3 linked regions of the Homo sapiens genome follow. The protein of the gene in region 3 purifies or fractionates together with the protein of the main gene of each other region. This does not show direct contact. Each region holds a gene or a part of one and is shown on either strand. Other genes may lie near its edges.

Region 1 (7,178 bases), on a different chromosome or scaffold from region 3:
GATTCTCCTGCCTCAGCCTCCCATGTAGCTGAGATTACAGGCATACACCACCACGCCTGGCTAATTTTTGTATTTTTAGTAAGGACGGGATCTCAGAATATTGGCCAGGCTGGTCTTGAACTCCTGGCCTCAAGTGATCCGCCTGTCTCGGCCTCCCAAAGTGCTGGGATTGCAGGCGTGAGCCACCGCGCCCAGCTGGCACAGGGATATTTAAAAGTATCCTATGCCCCCATGCCAGTGATTCTAATGTGAATGGTTGAGAACTACTGCTTTAAGACAATCTTTCCAAATTATAATCTTGACAGGTTTAACAATGACAATAAAACATCAACAGTAAAGAACTAGTTTAAGAATGTGACAAGGCACTGAACCTAATATAATACCAGGGAGTCAAGACAATGAGAGGAAACTCATACTGAGGGTGGGATATCAACTGGTGGAATCCTTCAGAGAATATGGCAGTAAGAATCAAAGGTTTATATTCATAGGCTTGATCTAGTGATATGCATTTAGAATCTCAGACTTAGTCTAAGAAAAATCTGAAAAACACACAAAGATTCGGGTACATGGATATTAACCTAACTGCCAACAATAGATTGGTTAAAAAAAATAGGAATATCATATAGCCATAAAAAAATCATGTTTTTGCTGAAAATTAAAAGGCACAGGACAATGCTTACAACTTATAAAGGGAAAAGAGCACTTGCAAAATGGAACTAATCAGTTCTTTACTTGGATCCATATACTGTTTCAGGTAGTTGATGATATATCACAAATGACATGTATCATTGTTTGTGTACACATATATACACACACAGATACACATATTCATACATATATACATACATATATACACACACACACACACGAGAGAAAGAGACAGGAAGGGAGAAAGAGAGCGGGAGATTTCTTTTGGGAAGAGGTTTCAAAAATTTCATGAGACTCTCAAAACATATCTCTCAAACAGGCTGAAGAACCATAGTACACACTAAGACCCCTATTTTGAAATAAATGAATAAGTACTAACATTTACTGAGCTCTTCAAATGTAAAACACAGGCAGGGTGCAGTGGCTCACGCCTGTAATCCCAACACTTTGGGAGGCAGAGGCAGGAGGATCACTTTGAGCCCAGGAGTTAGAGACCAGACTGGGCAACATAGGAAGACCCCCATCTCTACCAAAAAAAAAAAAAAAAATTAGCTGAGTGTGGTGGTCTGCACCTGTAGTCCAGCTACTCGGGAGGTTAAGGTGGGAGGACTGCTTGGGCCGGGGAGGTCAATGCTACAGTGAGCCATGATCACACCACTGCACTCCAGCCTAAGCAACAGAGCAAGATCTTGTCTCCAAAAAACAAAATAAAATAAAACAAAAACATGTAAAAGGCACTATGCTAAACATACATACTTACTCCAATCCTCAGAACAGTATTAAATAGGTACCAATACAGTTTTTCTCATTTTACAAATCCTTTGTCACATTTCTATAAGGGTCACTGTTTTTATTTATTCTAAAATTGTAATCTTTTGAAAGATCATATACCCTTTGTCCCAATTCTACTTCTGAGAATTTATTCTAAGGAAACAATCAAGAAAGTTCAGGACAAATTTAGCTTCATGTTGTCCATTTATTCTACCGTTGTTCATCACAGAAAAATAAATGGAAACCACTTAAATAGCTATTAATAAGAAATCAGTTAAATAAAGAATACTACCAAACAAACTAGTATGTACCCATTTAAATAAAAAATATTTAAAGATACTGAAGATAAAAGTTAGACAGGAAAGAACAAATTTTAACTCTGCTACTTACTGTACAATTTTACACAATTTAACTTATCACTTAAGTCTGTTTCTCTTCTGTAAAACTGGAAAAATACACAACTTCCCAGGGTTGTTATGAAGATTCCACAAGACATCATTCATAAAAGCACTAGTCTTCCTAGACTTCCGAATTAGCTGAGATACTCTCTGAAGAAATAATACTGAGGCTGAGATCTGAAGGGTGAGTGAAGGTGCAATAGCCCATTCCAGGCAGGGCCATCGATGAGTGAAGATCTGCTTAAAAGACCACTTAGGTGACTACCCCAGATGGATAGATCTCAAGGCCAAGGATGGTAAGAGTGGCGACAGTGACAACAGACAGACATTTAGAAGTAGCATCTATAGGACTTGATTATTGACTGCATGTCGGGGAGTTGAGAAGAGGGAGATGTCAAGGATGATTTCCAGGTTTTGGGCAGGCACAACAGGATGTATGGTGGTGCCATCTACAGAGTTGGGGGTTCCTGGAGGAAGAGCAGGTGTGGGCTGTGGGGAAGTGGAAATGCTCAGTTTGGAACTTGCTGAGCTTGAAATACATATGAGCTATCCAAGTGGAGGCACGGTTAGCAGATTTGTGGGTCTGGAGCTCAGAAGAAAGGTCTAACTTAGAGATAAAATTTTAGGAGAACGCATAGGGTGTAAAGCGTCCCTGAAGAGCACCACCATTTAGGATAGGGATTGGAGAACCTTGCTGAGCAATGAGACAGGAGAGAAACCAGGGGAGGGAAATACCACGGGAACTAGGGGAATATAATATCCGAAGAAAGTTGCGCCTGTCCCAGGTTAAGCCCTTCTTGCAAGGCTTCAAAAACGCCGAAGTCTCTCAAAATACTTTCACACAGAGAAGTAGCAGGGGGTGCGTGTCCAAGGTGGCCGAGGCGGGGTGCACACTTGTGTAGGGCACTTTCCCCCCGGCCCAGCGCGGAGACAGGCGAACTGGAGAGCCGCCCTGCCCACGCAGCTCGCAGCTGCCATCTTGGACCCCGGCAGGACCAGCTCCTTTCAGGCGCTGTGAAGCCCGCTCGTGGCGGCTGCCAAAGTCCGGGGAAAAACACAGGGGTCGGTGACGAGCAGAGATACTCACCATGTCCGCGACGTGGCGGTGACACGGGCGCTGACGCCTGCCCAAAAGTTCCGGGGGCCGGCCCTGAAGTGGTGTCACCGCACGGCCCAGGGGCGGGGCCCGGGCGGACCAACTACAACTCCCGACATGCTCGGCGGCATGACGTCACGGAGCGTACCACACCGCAGTCCCTCGCGGACGGCGAGGCGGGGCGGGTAGCCGAAGACTTATGTTTGGTAAATTCTATTAGTTAAGTCTTTTCTGTCCTACAGAAGCTCACACATCCTTCTGTGTGTTCTTCGATGCGGATTCGAATCTCCTCGTATCCTCCCACAGCGTGCTTGGAATGGATTCTCCCGTACCCGGGGCAACACATCACACAATAAACGCCAGCTGTGGTGGAACGTGCAGAGGCGCTGCGCAGCCCAGGCGTGTCGCGCGCTTGGGAACCCTCGCCGCTCCCGCAGCGCAGTTAACGTGGACAAGCTGGGGCAACCTGGACGAGCTGGGGCAACCTGATCTCGGCTGTCGGAGTGGGTGTCCTCAAGAAAGGTGACTTGGTCCTCGCGGACGCCAGGTGTTGCCCCTTAGATACCTGCCACCTCCCAGCCTCCGTTTCCTCTCTGGGAAACAGACTCCTCATCACCTCCTCCAGTTTTCTGCCCCTTCTTCACCTCTCCTGACGCTCCATCCGTACCTTTTGCAAGGGAACGTGCCATAATTCGGCTATGCTCTATTTTCTTGTCTAATAGATTGTAAGCTCCTTGCGGGCAGCATCTATGCCTTCTTAAATCTGTTTCTAGTTTCTACCAGCAAGCTTGCCCCGAAGGGGATTGCAGAATATCTGTTAAATAAGTGAATGAATAATTTTGTAAATGTTGCTCAATAAGAGTTAAGTAGTGGCGGGCCGGGCGCGGTGGCTGACGCCTGTAATCCCAGCACTTTGGGAGGCCAAGGCAGACGCATCACCTGCGCTCACGAGTTCGAGGCCAGCCTGGGCAAAATGGTGAAACCCCTGTCTCTACTAAAAATACCAAAAAAAAAAAAAAAAAAAAAAAAAAAAAAAAAAAATAGCCGGGCATGGTGGCGGGTGCTTGTAGTCCCAGCTACTCGGGAGGCTGAGACAGGAGAATCGCTTGAACCCGGGAGGCGGAGGCTGCAGAGAGCCAAGACAGCTCCACTGCACTCCTAGCCTGGGCAACAGAGAGAGACTCCGTCTCAAAAAAAAAAAAAAATTAATAAGAAAAAAGTTAAGTGATGGGAAAGTTCTAGGCAAGAATTTCTTCCCTCCCTCCTCCCTGGCTCGCTTGTGTGCCGGGAGCTGCGCAGATGCGGGGATACCGTGAGAGGGAGGAACCTGTCTCAGCTCCTGCCCTTGTGCCGTGGAGCTTTGAAATATAAGGTAAATGAAAGTACTAAATCTTGACTGAAGTTTGGTTTTAAAGCATCTCTGATTAATGGAAGAGGTAGGATGTGGGGAAGGGCGTTGTATTTAGTTATGTTTCAGTTTAAAATGAATCTTCACTTGCCCCTTTGGTGTTACGTATTAGCAATGATTCATGCTCAGGTGAGCCAGTTTCAGGCAGGCTTGCAGAGAGGCACTCAAACAGCTTGCTTTAAATTTAAGGTAAAAGGCCGGGCGCGGTGGCTCACGCCTGAAATCCCAGCACTTTAGGAGGCCGAGGCAGGTGAATCACTTGAGGTCAGGAGTTTGAGACCAGCCTGACCAACATGGTGAAACCCCGTTTCTACTAAAAATACAAAAATCAGCCGGGCGTGGTGGCAGGTGCCCGTAGTCCCAGCTACCTGGGAGGCTGCGGCAGGAGAATTCCTTGAACCCAGGAGGCGGAGGTTGCAGTGAGCTGAGATAGCGCCTCTGCATTCCAGCCTGGGCGACAGAGCGAGACTCCATCTTAATAAGCAAAGAAATAAATAAATTTAAGGTAAAAGGTTCTTACCAGCCGGGCGCGGTGGCCCACTCCTGTAATCCCAGCACTTTGGGAAGCCGAGGCAGGTGGATCACCTGAGGTCAGGAGTTCAAGACCAGCCTGGCCAACATGGTGAAACCCCGTCTCTACTAAAAAATACAAAGTTAGCTGGGCGTGGTGGCAGACGCCTGTAATCCCAGCTACTTGGGAGGCTGAGGCAGAAGAATCGCTTGAACCTGGGAAGCGGAGGTTGCAGTGAGCCGAGATCGCGCTATTGCACTCCATCCTGGGCTACAAGAGCGAAACTCTGTCTCAAAAAAAAAAAAAAAATGGTTCTTACTTTGGATTACAAACTGTGAGGACTAACCCAATGTTTGTTTTCTTCACTTATGTATGCCCAGTGCTTAGCTCATAATTGGTGCTTTAAAAACTTTAGAATGGGATAGAGGTAAGTATTCTTAGCTCCTTGGGCCTCTTCCTTTTTAAAAATAACATGTCTACTATTAGAAATTAATTTCTGGCCGGGCGCGGTGGCTCATGCCTGTAATCCCAGCGCTTTGGGAGGCCGAGGTGGGTGGATCACTTGAGGCCAGGAGTTCGAGACCAGCCTGGCCAACATAGTTAAACCCTGTCTCTACTAAAAATACAAAAACAGCTGGGCATGGTGGCGCGTGTCTGTAATCCAGCTACTCAGGTGGCTGAGGCAGGAGAATCGCTTGAACCTGGGAGGCGGAGGTTATAGTGAGCCAAGAACATGCCACTGCACTCCAGCCTGGGACTGTCTAAAAAAAAAAAAAACAACAACAACAACAAAAAAAAAAGAGACTCTGTCTTAAAACAATTAATTTCTAAATAAAGAGTTGCATGTTTAATATTTCACCTTTGTTTGAAGTGGTCATTTCCAAAGAAAGCTCAGAGTTGAAGTATACCTGTTAACAAATACTCAGAATTCATTGTAGAATTTTTGTTTTTGTTCTCGTTTTTATCTTGCCTAAATAATTGTTCTCTTCCCCATTCCCTTTATAATTTTGCCAGTGACACACTTATTATGTTTATTTAAACTTGAAAAAAACCTCAAGAGTTGTAGGGTAATACCTCAATGTGTTGTACATCCTGAAAAGCTGTTATATTTTCAACATAAGGGACAATGCAGGATGCTGAAATCATTGTATTTAAACTGTAAAAATGTCTGCCTTATATAATTATGATTTTAAAATCTACCCTGAACTTCTCAAAAGAAGGATTTGTTTATAATACACCGTACAGTAATAATTTTATCATTTCCAACAGATAAATGGCAGTGTAATCGATGAGATCTTGTACATTCCTTTGTAATTTGTGAGCACTTCATACGGAGAGTCAAGGGGGAGGGCTCATCTGGAGAATTTTGAATCCCAGTATTCTCCCCCACCCCGCAGAGTAGGTTCTTTCCCCATGGAGTATGAGGCTATTGTTTTGTAGTAAACCTTAAACTCTCAGACTGAAAGTAATTAGAACTGGAAATTAGTAACCACTTTTTTCTAAACTTTTCCCCTTTATTTTTATTTTCAATGTAAAGTAGGACTTTGCTATAAAACACGTGACCCTAGGGAAACTTTTGAAGTTAGCGGTATAGAGAGTACCACCACCAGACGCCACCATGCCTGCGGAAGGAGGAAAAACGGACATGGAAAGGATTGGCCTCTTTAGTGAGATGGAATATATTACTGTGGGTGATAAATATGTGTCACAATTTAATCGTAAGTATATTTGCTTTTCTCTATGGACGAATAGTGGGTATTTTCTATATAAAATTTAGAATTTAATATTTAAGTCAAATGATTTTTTAATGGTTTATATTTTAAAGCATTTAGTTCTAAAGTTTGTTAACGTGTAAAATTTCAATGAAGTTAAGCGATATCATTTATTTATTTATTTAGAAACAGGATCTTTGTTACCCAGGCTGGAGTGCCAGTGGCCTGATTATAGCTCACTGCAGTCTCAAACTCCTGGGCTCAAGGGTTCCTCCCATCTTCAGCCTCCTGAGTCTACAGGCACACACTACCATGCCCAGCTAATTTTTAAATACTTTGTGGAGTAGGGCGGGGGAGCTCTCACTATGTTGCCCAGGCTGGTCTTGAACTCTTGACCTCAAGAGACCCTCCCCACTCAGCGTGCCGTAGTGCTGGGGTTAAGAGGCATGAGCCACAGCACCCAGCAAGAAGGTGATTTTATGAGAATAGGAATCTCGTTTTATTAGGGTATTCTATCCTAATTTATTGTCCTCATAGGTAATTTGATTTCTTTTCAAAGGTGCCTGGCAGTTTTCTCCCAGAATATTTTGGTTAGATGGGACACTCCCCTATGCAAACAGCATTTACATTTGCG
Region 2 (6,963 bases), on a different chromosome or scaffold from region 3:
CCAGAAGGTCAAGGCTGCAGTGAGCCGTGAATGTGCCTCTGCCCTCCAGCCTGAGCGACAGAGTGAGAATTCCCCAGGAGTGCAGAGGTTCTCAGAACTGCAATACTCTGAGATGAATTTTGAAAGGTGAATCAGGGATAGAAGAATTAGGGATACCCAGAAAGGAGAAAAATGTTCTAGACAATTCTTTTTTCTTTTTTCAGCTGGAACTAAAAAAATGCTAACTCATAGGGCTATACATTTATAACTATTCTTATTATTAAAATTTGACTCAAAGTCTTAGGTTAACAGACAACCTGTGTCTAAGTATGTAGGCCTATACATCTAGGTCAAAAATATCCAGTAAACCTCACAATATCCTTTGGCAAAGAGAAAAATGAATTTCCCAGAGATCAATACCGAATCTAGAAAACAAGCTGAGAGTGCCTGACAATTTTTAATTCTGGCTTAAATTCGATGCTAACTTCATAACTTTTGTCTTGTACATTATTCCACAATTTTAGCTTACGTGGAGCTAAAAGAGCAGAACTTATACCATATACATAGAGTGACATCCCCTCCCCCATTCATCTTATTGATTTACACCTTCATTTATTCCACTTTCATTTGTTTCCTACCTTTTTTTTTTTTTTTCCTTTAGAGATCTTCTCTGCATATCAACTTAACCCTGACGCCTATGGAATAAGTATTTACCTAACAGTGCACTGTCTAGGCCATATCATTTTAAAGCTGTGGTTTTTAACCAGCTTAAAATCACATTTAAAGCTACATGGAGAGCTGATGAAACTCCTTAATGCCCACACTGAATCCCAAGCCAAATGAACCAGAGTTTTGCGGGAAAAGATCCAGGTATCAGGATTTTTCAAGCTCTCTGGTGATTCTGACATACAGTCAAGTAGAGAATCAAAGTTCTACAATGAATCCAGAATGCACTGGTTCTCAGAACTGCAATACTCTGAGGTGAACCAGGGATAGAAGAATTGGAGATACCCAGAAGGGGGAAAAATGTCCTGGACAATTCTGTTTCTTTTTCTTTCTTTTTTTTTGAGACAGTTTTGCACTGTCACCCAGGCTGGAGCTTAGTGGCACCATCACCATCATAGCTCACTGCAGCCTCAAACTTTGGACTGAAGCAATCTTTCTGCCTTGGCATCCCAAGCACCTGGGACTACTGGTGTACATCACCACAACCGCACTTTTAATTTTTTTTTTTTTTTTTTTAATAAAGAAGGGACCTTGCTATGTTGCCCGGGGTGGTCTTGAACTCCTGGATTCCAGCCATCCTCCCACCTCAGCGCCCAAAAGTGCTGGGATTACAGGCCTGGACAATTCTTTATAAGTGGTATTATGGAAAAGAGATGTGGCACAAGGAAATCTGCGAAGGAACCCACGATGTTCTGTCCAAGTTGTTAACAACTAGACGTTTTAAAAGGCATTTATAAAAATTAATAGTCTTACCTTTTGATTATCCTTCCTTCTCTATGGTGTGTTACAAAAATTCCACATCTTACAAGCCCATGAAAATAAATTCCCATGAGAGTTTGAAAACTTTTTGCAGAATAATGTCCCAATTTTAGTTACTGGTGGCCAATATTTACCAGCTTGAGAGGTGGTCTTTTATTACCCTTACTGGCTGGTAACATTTATGACACAGAAACTTGCAATAGGTTGGATGGAATCCTTTCAATATGAAAAGTAATTATAAACAGGTGAAGGTAGAATGGCAACTTTCGTGTTGGCTTTGTTAATGTTTTGCACGTAATCCCTCTGTCAAAGTGTCTTAAACAATAAAACAACAAGCAAAAATCTCACACATACACACACACACATGCACACACACATTTTGTTTTCAAAGACCACGGTGTAAAATGAAGATACACACACGTTATCCTGTAAGTTGTGGATCTTTGGTTGGCTAGTTGGTTATGATGTTTTTTCCCCTACTCAGCTCTAAAAAAACATCCTCGGCAAGGTGAGGTGGCTCACGCCTGTAATCCCAGCACTTTGGGAGGCCGAAGCGGGCGGATCACCTCAGGTTGGGAGTTCGAGACCAGACTGACCAATGTGGAGAAGCCCAGTCTCTACTAAAAATATAAAATTAGCCCGGCGTGGTGGCGCATGCCTGTAATCCCAGCTACTCTGGAGGCTGACAGAGGAGAATCGCTTGAACCCGGGAGGAGGAGGTTGCGGTGAGCCGAGATCACGCCATTGCACTCCAGCCTGGGCAACAAGAGTAAAACTCCGTCTCAAAAAAAAAAAAAAAAAAAAAAAAAAAATCCTCAAAGCCAACCCACCTGCCAAGAGGAGGGAAGGAGGTGATACTCGAGCCTTACTCTCGAATCAAGAAAAGGGAGTAGGCCTTGGGGAAATGTGGCTTTCAAAATTCATGCCATATTTGCCCAAGCCAAGTCGCTAGCTGGTCCCTGCAACCACCCACACACCCCACTGCCTTCTTCCTAGGAAAAACCAGACTCTGCCCTGTTACCTACGCGCCCGACTCGCGGGGCGCTGTTCGTTCAAGACTCGCCCCAAAGAGCGCAGGAACGCGAGCCGCAGCAGTTTCAGGGTTCAGCTTAGGTGACACAAACGTAGCTAATGGGAGGCCGCCGCCGACTCTCCCACCCGCCCTTACCAGCATCCCCGCGCCTCTCCCCGCCACCCTTGCCCGGCGCGCCGGCGATGCCCTCTGCCCGCGGGGACCCGAGCCTCGCGCGCCCTCCGCCCTCCCTACCCTGGACCCTGTACCCATCACACCTGGGGCACTGCCGTCCGCCGAGCTTGGGCGCGCGGCAGCGAGAAGGCACTGGAGGAGGAGCAGCCGGGGCGTACGCGCCCTGGCCTCCAGCAGGCCGGGGAGGGCGCGCATGGCGCCAGAGGGTCCGCCTGGGTCCTCGTGGAGACTGCTCCCTCAGCTCGCCGCCGCGGGTGTCCAGAGTCCCTGCGCACACTCGCAGGTGGCCCGGCGCTCGCAGCCAGTGCCGCGGGTAGGACGCTGAAGAAAAGGCGGAATGGGAGGGGCCCGGCCGCCTTGCCCCACTCCCCCGAGACGCTCTTACCGCGCCCGGCCCTCCATCAGTTATGCAGCCCTCAGCCGGCTGCTGGCGTTCCCGGATGTGCGGTGGCGGTGCTACTTCCCGGCTGCAGCCTCTCCGGCCTCCGCCCTCTCGGCTCTAGCAGGTCGGGAGAGAGCTTGGGCAGGTGATGTCTAGCCAATCTCGTGGGGAGAGGTCGAAACTCTGCCTACAGACTGGCCTTTGCACTTCACCTGAGGCAGGTTTCACTAATTTGCTTTGATGGGACAGATGAGAAACACTTTTCTCCTCCCGGACCCCGGACATCTTTGGGCTTTCTTACGAGGGAGGCTTATTTTTGCGCAGGTGTAAGGTTTTATCCAGCTGCCAGACAACTTGTGTTAATCTTTCTTTGCTTTGCCTACCAATCACACACATTCTCTCTTCTAGTCTCTGAAGGCTTAACTGATTTTCTCCGGATGAAGGTTTTAGAGTCCCAAGGCCCCATACCGTGTCTGATTTTACTTTATTTTTGTTTGTTAAGCCTAACAGCTTCTGAGGAGCCACCTAGAGCTCAAGAAGCAAAAGCTACTGAGAGTAGATACTATGTAAACTGCACAAGACATTGACCTTTGTTAAATCCGAACACTCTTTAAGATAATGCTCTTACCCACAAGGCTGTAGCTTGGAATATTCAGTGCTCTGAACCAAATTAAATAAATTAGTGCTTTATCCGGGAGGGGAGGAGAAATCTATATTGTAACATTGAAACACATTGATTTGATTTCTCTCCAGGATGTTATAACGCATTAAAAGATATTTTTAAAATTTTTCACGAGCTTTGTTTCCTCTCCCTTTATTTTTTTGAAGTTCAGCTTTCACATTCGTAAATTCAAAATATATCGGCGTTAAAAAAAAAAGGATTGGAAATAACATGAGACAAATTTTGAAAATTGAGCTATTTAACAAAACCTGTGTTTATTCCAGGCAGGAATGGTTAATTTGTAATTGGTACGTATTACTAAAACACGTCTGTTTCTGGTTTAGTATTATATGCACAAAACTTTGGAAACAGAATGTAGATTCTTCAAATTGGCAGTGAGATAATATGAATAATACAATTCATTCAACAATATTATCTACCAGGTGCCAATCTACCATTGTGTTCAAAAGAGGCTAGATAGGCACACATGCACAAATGCACGCATGCACACATGTACACACACACACACACAAATTAGACAACTGTTTATCTGTGAATGACAAATCTCAGAAAAGCCTCTTCTCAGAAAATTATGGTCAAAATTATTAAAATCTTCTGAATGAAACTTTAAAAGATGCCTTCAAGGACTAAATCTTATACACTGTTGACCCTCTGAGGGCATTGACTGGGCTTGCTAAACCCAAATTGCCTAATCAATGGCTGCTACATCACACCTCTTTCTTTCAACCCTGCATCTGGTCTCAGGACTAACTGCACACATTTCCCTATAATTAGGTAGAGTGTCAACAGTAAGCACTTCTCACCTCAAACTAAACTCTGACTGACTTTTCCCAGTTAGTCTCATAAAATCCTTAGACACAAATTCACCCTTCTTAAAGAAACATTTTTTTCAGTTGAATCAGCCTATTTATGACCAGAAAAACTTACTTACCCAAGTTGATGCTGATCCCCACTGTTGCTTTTGCTGTTGGAACAAAAGAGTTGAGAAAGAAATATAATTCTCATTTTGCTAAGCATTTTGAAAGTCTTTTCATCACTGTTCCTGTTCTATATTTAGATATTTGATATTTCCAGCCTTATGTACATTCCACTTTTTCAAATGCTCCATATCCTTTAAAACAAGCTTATTGACTGCCTTCCCTATATAACTTTTTCTATCCCTGATTCACCTTTCAAAATTCATCTCAGAGTATTGCAGTTCTGAGAACCTCTGCACTCCTGGGGAATTCTCACTCTGTCGCTCAGGCTGGAGGGCAGAGGCACATTCACGGCTCACTGCAGCCTTGACCTTCTGGGCTCAAGACGAAGAAATTGGGGATTGGCTTAAGTAATTGCCCAAGTAATTGCTTAAGTAATTGCCCAAGTAATTACACATACTTAGTTAAGCAGCAGAGCAGGAAATTTGGCATTGGTCCATCCAGTGCCTGTTTTCCTAAACACAGTGCTTAAACACAATATCCAGTTGTCTCTCCGAGCTAATTGGAAATGTCTATGAAAGTTCAGAACTACTGACAGCATAGCCTATGCATCTAAATGTCTGATTTGCACTGAATGACATGCTGACACAGTTTGAGTCCTGGAATAAAATTAGGTACAGGGACTCTTTTAAGGTTTTTTGATTAAATAAGACATATAATATATCTTTGTAAAGGACATATCAGTGGGAGTATTTAAATATCATTATTATTACTATTACATGACACAAATTGGAGAAATGGGTCATGTTTATCTTTTGAAAAATGTTTGCAGTAGAATCATTTAAAATGATCCTTTAACTTCCAGAGGACGTGGCTTTTGCATTCCCTTTATGAACCCCCTTCCCTACTAACCTCTCACCCCAAACACAGCAGCTTTCTAGTAATAAATATTTTTGAAGCAAATACTATTCAAGCACCCACATATGTCTGACATTGTTAGTCCATATCTCAGTAGAACATGCTGGCAGTTTTTACCTTTAAGGACATTTAAAGGGGTTCCCACTGGACAAATCTGGGACAAATTGAGCATCAAATAAATAATAATATTAGTGGATTGCAACTCAGGGATAGAAGTACTGGGGATACCCAGAAGAGAGAAAAATGTTCTAGACAATTCTTTTTTCTTTTTTCAGCTGGAACTAAAAAAATGCTAACTCATAGGGCTATACATTTATAACTATTCTTATTATTAAAATTTGACTCAAAGTCTTAGGTTAACAGACAACCTGTGTCCAAGTATGTAGGCCTATACATCTAGGTCAAAAATATCCAGTAAACCTCACAATATCCTTTGGCAAAGAGAAAACTGAATTTCGCAGAGATCAATACCGAATCTAGAAAACAAGCTGAGAGTGCCTGACAATTTTTAATTCTGGCTTAAATTCGATGCTAACTTCATAACTTTTGTCTTGTACATTATTCCACAATTTTAGCTTACGTGGAGCTAAAAGAGCAGAACTTATACCATATACGTAGAGTGACATCCCCTCCCCCATTCATCTTATTGATTTACACCTTCATTTATTCCACTTTCATTTGTTTCCTACCTTTTTTTTTTTTTTTCTCTTTAGAGATCTTCTCTGCATATCAACTTAACCCTGATGCCTATGGAATAAGTATTTACCTAACAGTGCACTGTCTAGGCCATATCATTTTAAAGCTGTGGTTTTTAACCAGCTTAAAATCACATTTAAAGCTACATGGAGAGCTGATGAAACTCCTTAATGCCCACACTGAATCCCAAGCCAAATGAACCAGAGTTTTGCGGGAAAAGATCCAGGTATCAGGATTTTTCAAGCTCTCTGGTGATTCTGACATACAGTCAAGTAGAGAATCAAAGTTCTACAATGAATCCAGAATGCACTGGTTCTCAGAACTGCAATACTCTGAGGTGAACCAGGGATAGAAGAATTGGAGATACCCAGACGGGGGAAACTTTTTCTGACCTTTCTGGTCCAAATTGACCTTTTCCTCCTTGGTGAAATAAATATTGCAACAAGCACTTTGATACTCTCATCATGAAGCGTATAAAGGGGGAATAAGGGTCCTTTGTTTTCTCCCCTTGAGTTGGGTGGGCTCTTTGACTCCCCTAACCTACTGAATATTGCTGAAGAGATACTGTGTGGGCTGGCCAGGCGTGGTGGCTCGCGCCTGTAATTCCAGCACTTTGGGAGGCTGAGGCAGGCAGATCACAAGGTCAGGAGCTCGAGACCAGCCTGGCCAATATGGTGAAACCCCGTCTCTACTAAAA
Region 3 (7,021 bases):
GCCAAGATCGCGCCACTGCACTCCAGCCTGGGCAACAGAGGGAGACTCTGTCTCAAAAAAAAAAAAAAAAAAAAAAAGAAGGAAAGAAAAGAAATTGAGAGAATGCTGAGGACACAGGGTATAGATGTGTGAATAGCTTTGATAGAGCTGAAGTCTGGGCCTAGGATTCTTGTATTTCCCTCAGGCCCATAGAAGGAGATTGAAATGCAGGGAAGAGTTAAGTCTGGGAGGTCTGGGAACTAGGGTAAGGGACATGAAGATGGGGCAGATAGCACCCACTAGCAACCCGCCCCCAACCCCAGCAACACACTGAAACTGGCTGCCAGACAACTTCGCAAAGATTCCCTGTTACGGCCAGGACTTGGGCAAAGAGAAATGGATTGGCTGGACAGTCACCCTTCTTCATACCCAGGGCCTTCTGGGATCCTGTTCCTTTGAACCAGCCTTTCTGGCTGTCTTATGTAGAATATTTTCAGGGTCCTAGATTGGTGAACAGTTGGAGGTTTCAGGAAAACCCGATAAAAATTCTTTATTGGGGGAGGGGCTCAAACAAGAAAATAATCAACAAGTGGTGTCCAGAGTGGAGCCAGGGCCTCCTGGGGACAGCAAGACTGCCTGGGGAGCGGGAAGCAGCTCCCCCGTCTCTGGGGGAGGCGTGGCTGGAGGGGAGGCTGGACCACAGGAGGGCAGCGCCCTGGGCAACCCTATGTAGATGAAGCTGCCGGAGAGGATCAAAGAACCAGACAGGAGGAAAGAGGCGGTGAAGTCTCCTGTCTCATCCCTTAGGAAGCCTGAGGAGATGGGTAAGGGCATTTAGAAGCCTCGAACCCCAGGGGCAGAGGATAGTTGTAGGCAGATCTGTGAGCTCAGGTCCTTACCTGACAGGGGAGGGCCCAGGAGCCCCCCGAGGCTCATCAGCATCATCACCAGCCCTGTGGCCTGCACCACACCTCCGACGCCCACCAGCCCGGGGAGTACACCGAAAACCAGCGGGGCGTAACTCCCCGCGCTCAGCCCATAGGCCACAGCCGCGGCCAGCAGGGGACCCCCCCAGCTCTCTTCGCCGCCCACCACGGGCACCAGCCCCACCACCCACAGCCCCAGCCCAGTCAGAGCCCCGAATACGGCCAGCAGCCGCGGGAGGGGCACCCAGCCTTGGTCTGCCAGCCACCCGCAGACCAGCCGGGCGCCCGCATCCCCCATCGCAGCCACGGCCACCACCAGCGCTGCTCCGTATCCCCCCAGGCCCCGGTCTAAAGCGTGGGGAGCCAAGTGCACGTAAGGAACGAAGTACCCGCCCCCAACCAGGGCTGTGCCTAGAGCAAAGATTGAGAAGGCCCGGCGTGTGAACAGACTCAGGCCGAGGGCAGCTAGGGGACTACGCGGTGGGGCTGGGGGGTCTCCAGGAAGGACCAGGGGTAGCAGCAGGGCGCCACAGGGGGTGAGGTGGAGGGTGATCGCGCCGAGGAGGAGCAGAGCGCCCCGCCAGCCGAAAGTATCGAGAAGAAGCTGCAAGGCGGGCGCCAGGAGCAGCGAGGAGGCCCCGTTGCCGGTGAGCGCCAGCCCCACCGCCAAGACTCGACGGCGGGAGAAGTAACGCGAGAGGGTGCCTAGGGCGGGGGCGAACACCAGGGCCCAACCAAAGCCTGCGAATGAATAGGAGGGGATGGGGGCCGGCACTGGGGACGCCCGCCCCAGCATTCCCAGCCCGGCTCTCCGCACCAGGCCCCCGCCTCGTTCGCTACCCCAGATCCCAACAAGCTCCTGTCACCTCCTTCACCCTGAATGACCCGGGCATCCCACTTCCCTCACCAGCGAGGAGGCCCAGGCCGAGGTAGAGATGCAGCAGATCGCTGGCGAAAGCCGAGAAGACGAAGCCCAGCGAGGCGAGGACGCCCCCAACCATCACCACGGGGCGGGCCCCCCAGCGCGTGCTCAGGGCGCTGCCCACGGGGCCTGAAAGGGGGCGGAGTCAACGGAAGACACGCCCCCGGGCCCCCAAACTCTCTCCAACACTTCTCATTGGCTGTTTGCCTCCCTCGAACTAATGGTTCTTCTCCTTGACCTCAAGATGCACTCTTTTCTAGAGCCGGTTGCCCTTTCTCAGGTTGTCGGGTAATCAGGTGGGTCTCCCATCCCTCCACTCACGGCTCCTCCTCCCCGTTCCTGTCTCCCGCCTCAGGGCCCCCCTCACTGGCTGCCTGCTGCACGGCCAGGGCCAGGGCGCTGATCCACGCAGTGTCCTGGGCGCTTCGGTCAAAGTGCTCGGCAAGGTCAGGGAAGGCAAGGCCCAGCGAGCGCAGCAGCCCGTAGGACAGCCCGTTTATCGCGAAGGCTGCGGCCGCCACCACCCAGCCCCAGCCCCCATCCGGGGGTCCGGCGGGCTGGGGGGTCATCGCCGTCTGCGGGGTGGGGAAACATCTGTGAGAGAAGCCTCCACGCCTGTGCTTCCGCTGGGGAGCTGGCATCCCTGAGATCCAGCCTCTGGCTGCTCGCCCGGGGTGGGCCCGTCACTCCGAGCGCGATGGCGCGGGGCGGAGGGAGCCGGAGCCTGGCCTAGGGCTGGAACTCCCGGGTCCGCGCGAGGTACGGGGACGGGGACAGCCAGATCCCCAGGCCCGAGGTTCCCCGTCCCACGCACACTCCTTCCCCCTTACCCGACCTCTCCGGGCGGTGCGGGGAGGGGAAGGGTGAGGAAGGGCTGGGCCCGGCTTTCTCTCTGCTTCCCAGGCGGGCGGGGGCCCCGAAGGGGAGCGAGGGCAGCGATGGAGCCCAACTTGGACGGGCTCTCTCGGTAAACAGAGATCACCACAGGGGCCTGAGCCACCTGGGACGCGGGGTGTACGGAGGGCGGGGGCGAGCTGAAACAGCCAATCCGGCAAGCCGCGCGTGAGGCCAGACGCCAGTCCCACGGGGATTGAATTATGTACACACACAACCCCCAGGCCCGGGGGAGGGGGGAGCGGCGAGAAATGAATGCAGAGGGGCCCTGCCCTACTCACACGCATGCACCTGCCGCCTGCTGCGCGCAGGGGAGACACGTGGATTGCAAACCCCAGCGAGCCCAGGGTCCACCGCCAACGCGTGGAAATAGGGATGGTCCCCAAAACCTGAGGGGATGAGTAGTTTTGTTCTCAGGAACGTTGCCGAGGACCAGGTAAATCTCGGATATCAATCAGATCACAGACCTCCACCAAGTGCCAGCTCTGTGCTTAGAATAACAGACCCCCAGGCCGGGCGCGGTGCAAGCCTGTAATCCCAGCACTTTGGGAGGCCGATGTGGGTGAATCACCTGACGTCAGGAGTTCGAGGCCAGCCTGACCAACATGGCGAAACACCATATCTACTAAAAATACAAAAAAAATTAGCCGGGTGTGGTGGCGGGCGCCTGTAGTCCCAGCTACTTGGGAGGCTGAGGCGGGGAATCGCTTGAACCCGGGAGGCAGAAGTTGCAGTGAGCCAAGATCATGCCACTGCACTCCAGCCTGGGTGACAGAGAAAGACTCTGTCTCAAAAATAAATAAATAAACAAAAATAAAATAAATAAAATAAAATAACAGGTCCTCAAGGACAGAGGGATGAAACACGACTCCCTCAATGTGAAGACCTGCAGTGTACCAGGCACCGTTTACACATGCTATCACTTCATCTTATGATAACCCTATGAAGAAGGTGTCGCTTTTCTTTTTTTTTTTTTTTAGATGGAGTTTCACTCTGTAGCCCAGGCTGGAGTACAGTGGCGAGATCTCGGCTCATTGCAACCTCTGCCTCCTAAGTTCAAGCCATTCTCCTGCCTCAGCCTCCTGAGTAGCTGGGATTACGGGCGCCTGCCACCACTCCCAGCTAATTTTTGTATTTTTTAGTAGAGATGGGGTTTCGCCATGTTGGCCAGGCTGGTCTGGAACTCCTGACCTCAGATGATCCGCCCACCTCGGCCTCCCAAAGTGCTGGGATTACAGGAGTGAGCCAACGCGCCTGGCCGATGTCGTGCCTCTTTTATAGATGCAGTAACTGAAGCTCTCAGGGAAAAAATGGTATGGATATTTGAATTTAGGTCTGTCCAACTGTGGACCTACAAGGAGAACAATCCCAGGACTGAAACAAAATCTGGCACAGTTAAGGGAAAGATCCTGGATACAGCTTGAAGCAAACTGCCCTGGAAAGGGTGGAACCATTGCAGGGACAGAAAACTTATGAGTCTAAAATAAGGGGTCACTGGGAATAGAAAGGATTCTTGAGATCAGAATCTCTAAACACTTAGGTTAGAATTTTATTTTTTATTATGTATGTATGTATGTATGTATGTATGTATGTATGTATGTATGTGTGTGTGTATTTATTTATAGAGACAGGGTCTTGTCCAGGCTGAAGTGTAGTACTGCCATTATGGCTCACTGCAGCCTCCACCTCCCAGGCTCAAGCAATACTCCACCTCAGCCTCCCGAGTAGCGAGGACTACAGGCTCCACACCACCATGCCTGGCTAAATTTGTTCATTTTTTTTGTAGAGAGGGGGTCACAGCATGTTGCACAGGCTGGTCTCAAGCTCCTGGACTTAAGCAATCCTTCCACCTCGGACTCCCAAAGTGCTGGGATTACAGTCTACCATGCCTGGCCAGGTTACAATTTTAAAAGCAAAGTAAAAAATCAGGTCATTGAAGCCAGGTATTGATTTTTTGAAAAACTTTATAGAAAATGTCCTTTTTTGATAGGTTGACATTCTTTACCTCAGCTCTTTGAATTCAGAGATGTGTTCTTTGGTTTAATTATTAAACAATATGATAGAACATTCAGCAACTTAAGTTTGGAGCATGCATCCATTGAGCCACATGATGGCAGTGTTTCCTAATTATTGGGAAAGAATCTGCACGTAAAGACAAGAAAAACAGCTTCTTAAGGAGCAAAACTGTAAACATAAAAGACACAGCATGACTATAGGCAATGGCTCTCCATTGCCTATAGACGGGAAAAATTACATTTCTCTATTTGTACAGGTCTTTTACAATAATCAAAGGTAGACCTAGGTTACCGTTCCAAACCATCTCCCCTCTCTCCCTTTTGCCAGCCTCCCATCAGCCACTGTCTTCTCTGCTCTGTGGACATGCCTAGCTTTTTCTCACTCCTTAATTTTTGCATATGTCATGCTCTCTGCTTGAAACGTCCTGTTGTTCATGAAGGTCCTGACAGACACACCTTAGGAAAGTGGCCCCACCGGTTTCCCCAGCCTGGAGTGCTGTTATGAAAGCCACCAGGGAGGCGGAGCCAGCAGGTCCTCAGCTACCGGGGAGGGCAGGGATCCCGCTTCCTGAGAAGGCTGCTGAAGACTCTGCTCCAAGCTAAACGAATCACTGTCTCCCCATGGTGACGCAGAAATGCAGGACAGTCAGAGCGAAGACCGGGCCCTCCGCATCTGGGAGTTGTGCTAAGTGATGCTGCGCACCTTCGCAGGATGCTTACGAAGCCAGAAGGGTATCCCAGAGCCTGGGACTAGGGCTGTGAAAGAGCACATTCCTCTTCTACCTCAGGCTCCCTATATTCTTAGCAAAACTTGTCATCTTTTGCTCACGGAGGTAAAATAGCACAGAGATTAGGAGAATGGACTCCCAAGCTAGATTTCTTGAGGTTGAATGCCAGCTCTACTGTAGGGTCTAGCCCTACGGGGCTTGGCGGGTGTTTTCCCCGTGTGCGGAGATGAGAGATTGTAACAAATAAAGACACAAGCCAAAGAGATAGAAGAAAAGACGCTGGGCCCTGGGAACCACTACCATCAAGACGCGGAGACCGGTAGTGGCCCCGAACGGCTGGTTGCGCTGATATTTATTGCATACAAGACAAGGGGGCAGGGTAAGGAGGGTGAATCTTCTAAGTGATTGACAAGGTGCAGCAAGTCACGTGATCACAGGACGGGAGGGCCCTTCCCTTTTAGGTAGCCGAAGTAGAGACAGAAGGCAGCATACGTCAGCGTTTTCTTCTATGCACTGATAAGAAAGATCAAAGACTTTAGACTTTCACTATTTCATCTACCGCTCTGTACTACGAACTTCAAAGAGGAACCAGGAGTACGGGAGGAACATGAAAGTGGACAAGGAGCGTGAGCATTGAAGCACAGCCCCACAGGGAGGGGTTTAGGCCTCCGGATGACTGCGGGGAGGCCTGGATAATATCCAGCCTTCCACAAGAAGCTGCTGGAGCAGAGTGTTCCCTGACTCCTCCAAGGAAAGGACACTCCTTTTCGCGATCTGCTAAGTGATGGGTGTCTTCCCAGGCACTAGCGTTACCGCTTGACCAAGGAGCCCTCAAGCGGCCCTTATGCGAGCGTGACAGAAGGTTCACCTCTTGCCTTCTAGGTCACTTCTCACAATGTCCCTTCATCACCTGACCCTATACCTGCCGGTTATTCGTAGGTTATATTAGTAATGCAACAAAAAGTAATATTAAAAGCTAATGATTAATAATGTCTATAATAATGATTGATAATTGTCCATGATCATCTCTATATCTCATTTGTATTATGACTATTTTTATTCTATTTTCTTTATTACACTGAAACAGTTTGTGCCTTCAGTCTCTTGCCTCGGCATCTACGTAATCTTTCGCCCACACTCTACCACTTAGTAACTATATGATTATGAGCAAGTGTGACTCAACCTCTCTGTGCCTCGGTTTCCTCATCTCTACAATGGGGGTAATAACAGTAGCTACCTGATGGGTTGTTATAAGAATTAAATGAGTCACTGTGAATACACATATAAGTAAGGAACTTAGAACAGTGCCAAAGTATACGTGTTAGAGCTCATTGCCGCTATTTTCTTTCTTTTTTTTTTTTTTTCTTTTTTTTTTGAGACAGAGTCTTGCTCTATTGCCCAGGCTGGAGTGCAGTGGTACAATCTAGGTTCACCACAACCTCTGCCTCCCAGGTTCAAGTGAATTCTCCAGCCTCAGCCTCCCAGGTAGCTGAGATTACAGGTGCCCGCCACCACACTCAGCTAATTTTTTTGTATTTTTATTAGAGACGGGGTTTC

Evidence for each region. Proteins that work in one complex are often made in the same cells at the same time.
Region 1: the proteins of SLC16A11 (region 3) and UFSP2 purify together in Homo sapiens (affinity purification with mass spectrometry; 2 studies listed by BioGRID and IntAct, with this or other methods). This does not show direct contact.
Region 2: the proteins of SLC16A11 (region 3) and EMB purify together in Homo sapiens (co-immunoprecipitation; 4 studies listed by BioGRID and IntAct, with this or other methods). This does not show direct contact.

Annotation. Positions count from the first base shown.
Region 1 is NC_000004.12:185,422,962-185,430,139, forward strand, and holds the start of UFSP2 (ufm1-specific protease 2), read right to left. Parts: upstream 3,004-7,178; 5' UTR 2,908-3,003; coding exon 2,905-2,907; intron 1-2,904. Other genes in the region: CFAP96 (cilia-and flagella-associated protein 96), read left to right, coding at 6,451-6,550. UniProt on the Homo sapiens protein: Thiol-dependent isopeptidase that specifically cleaves UFM1, a ubiquitin-like modifier protein, from conjugated proteins, such as CD274/PD-L1, CYB5R3, DDRGK1, MRE11, RPL26/uL24, TRIP4 and RPL26/uL24.
Region 2 is NC_000005.10:50,438,286-50,445,248, forward strand, and holds the start of EMB (embigin precursor), read right to left. Parts: upstream 3,004-6,963; 5' UTR 2,867-3,003; coding exon 2,755-2,866; intron 1-2,754. UniProt on the Homo sapiens protein: Plays a role in the outgrowth of motoneurons and in the formation of neuromuscular junctions.
Region 3 is NC_000017.11:7,041,118-7,048,138, forward strand, and holds SLC16A11 (monocarboxylate transporter 11), read right to left. Parts: upstream 2,976-7,021; 5' UTR 2,658-2,975; exon of another isoform or gene 2,403-2,657; 5' UTR 2,397-2,402; coding exon 2,195-2,396; intron 2,124-2,194; exon of another isoform or gene 1,957-2,123; coding exon 1,813-1,956; intron 1,647-1,812; coding exon 879-1,646; coding exon of another isoform or gene 814-878; exon of another isoform or gene 792-813; coding exon 562-791; 3' UTR 504-561; downstream 1-503. UniProt on the Homo sapiens protein: Proton-linked monocarboxylate transporter. It catalyzes the transport of pyruvate across the plasma membrane.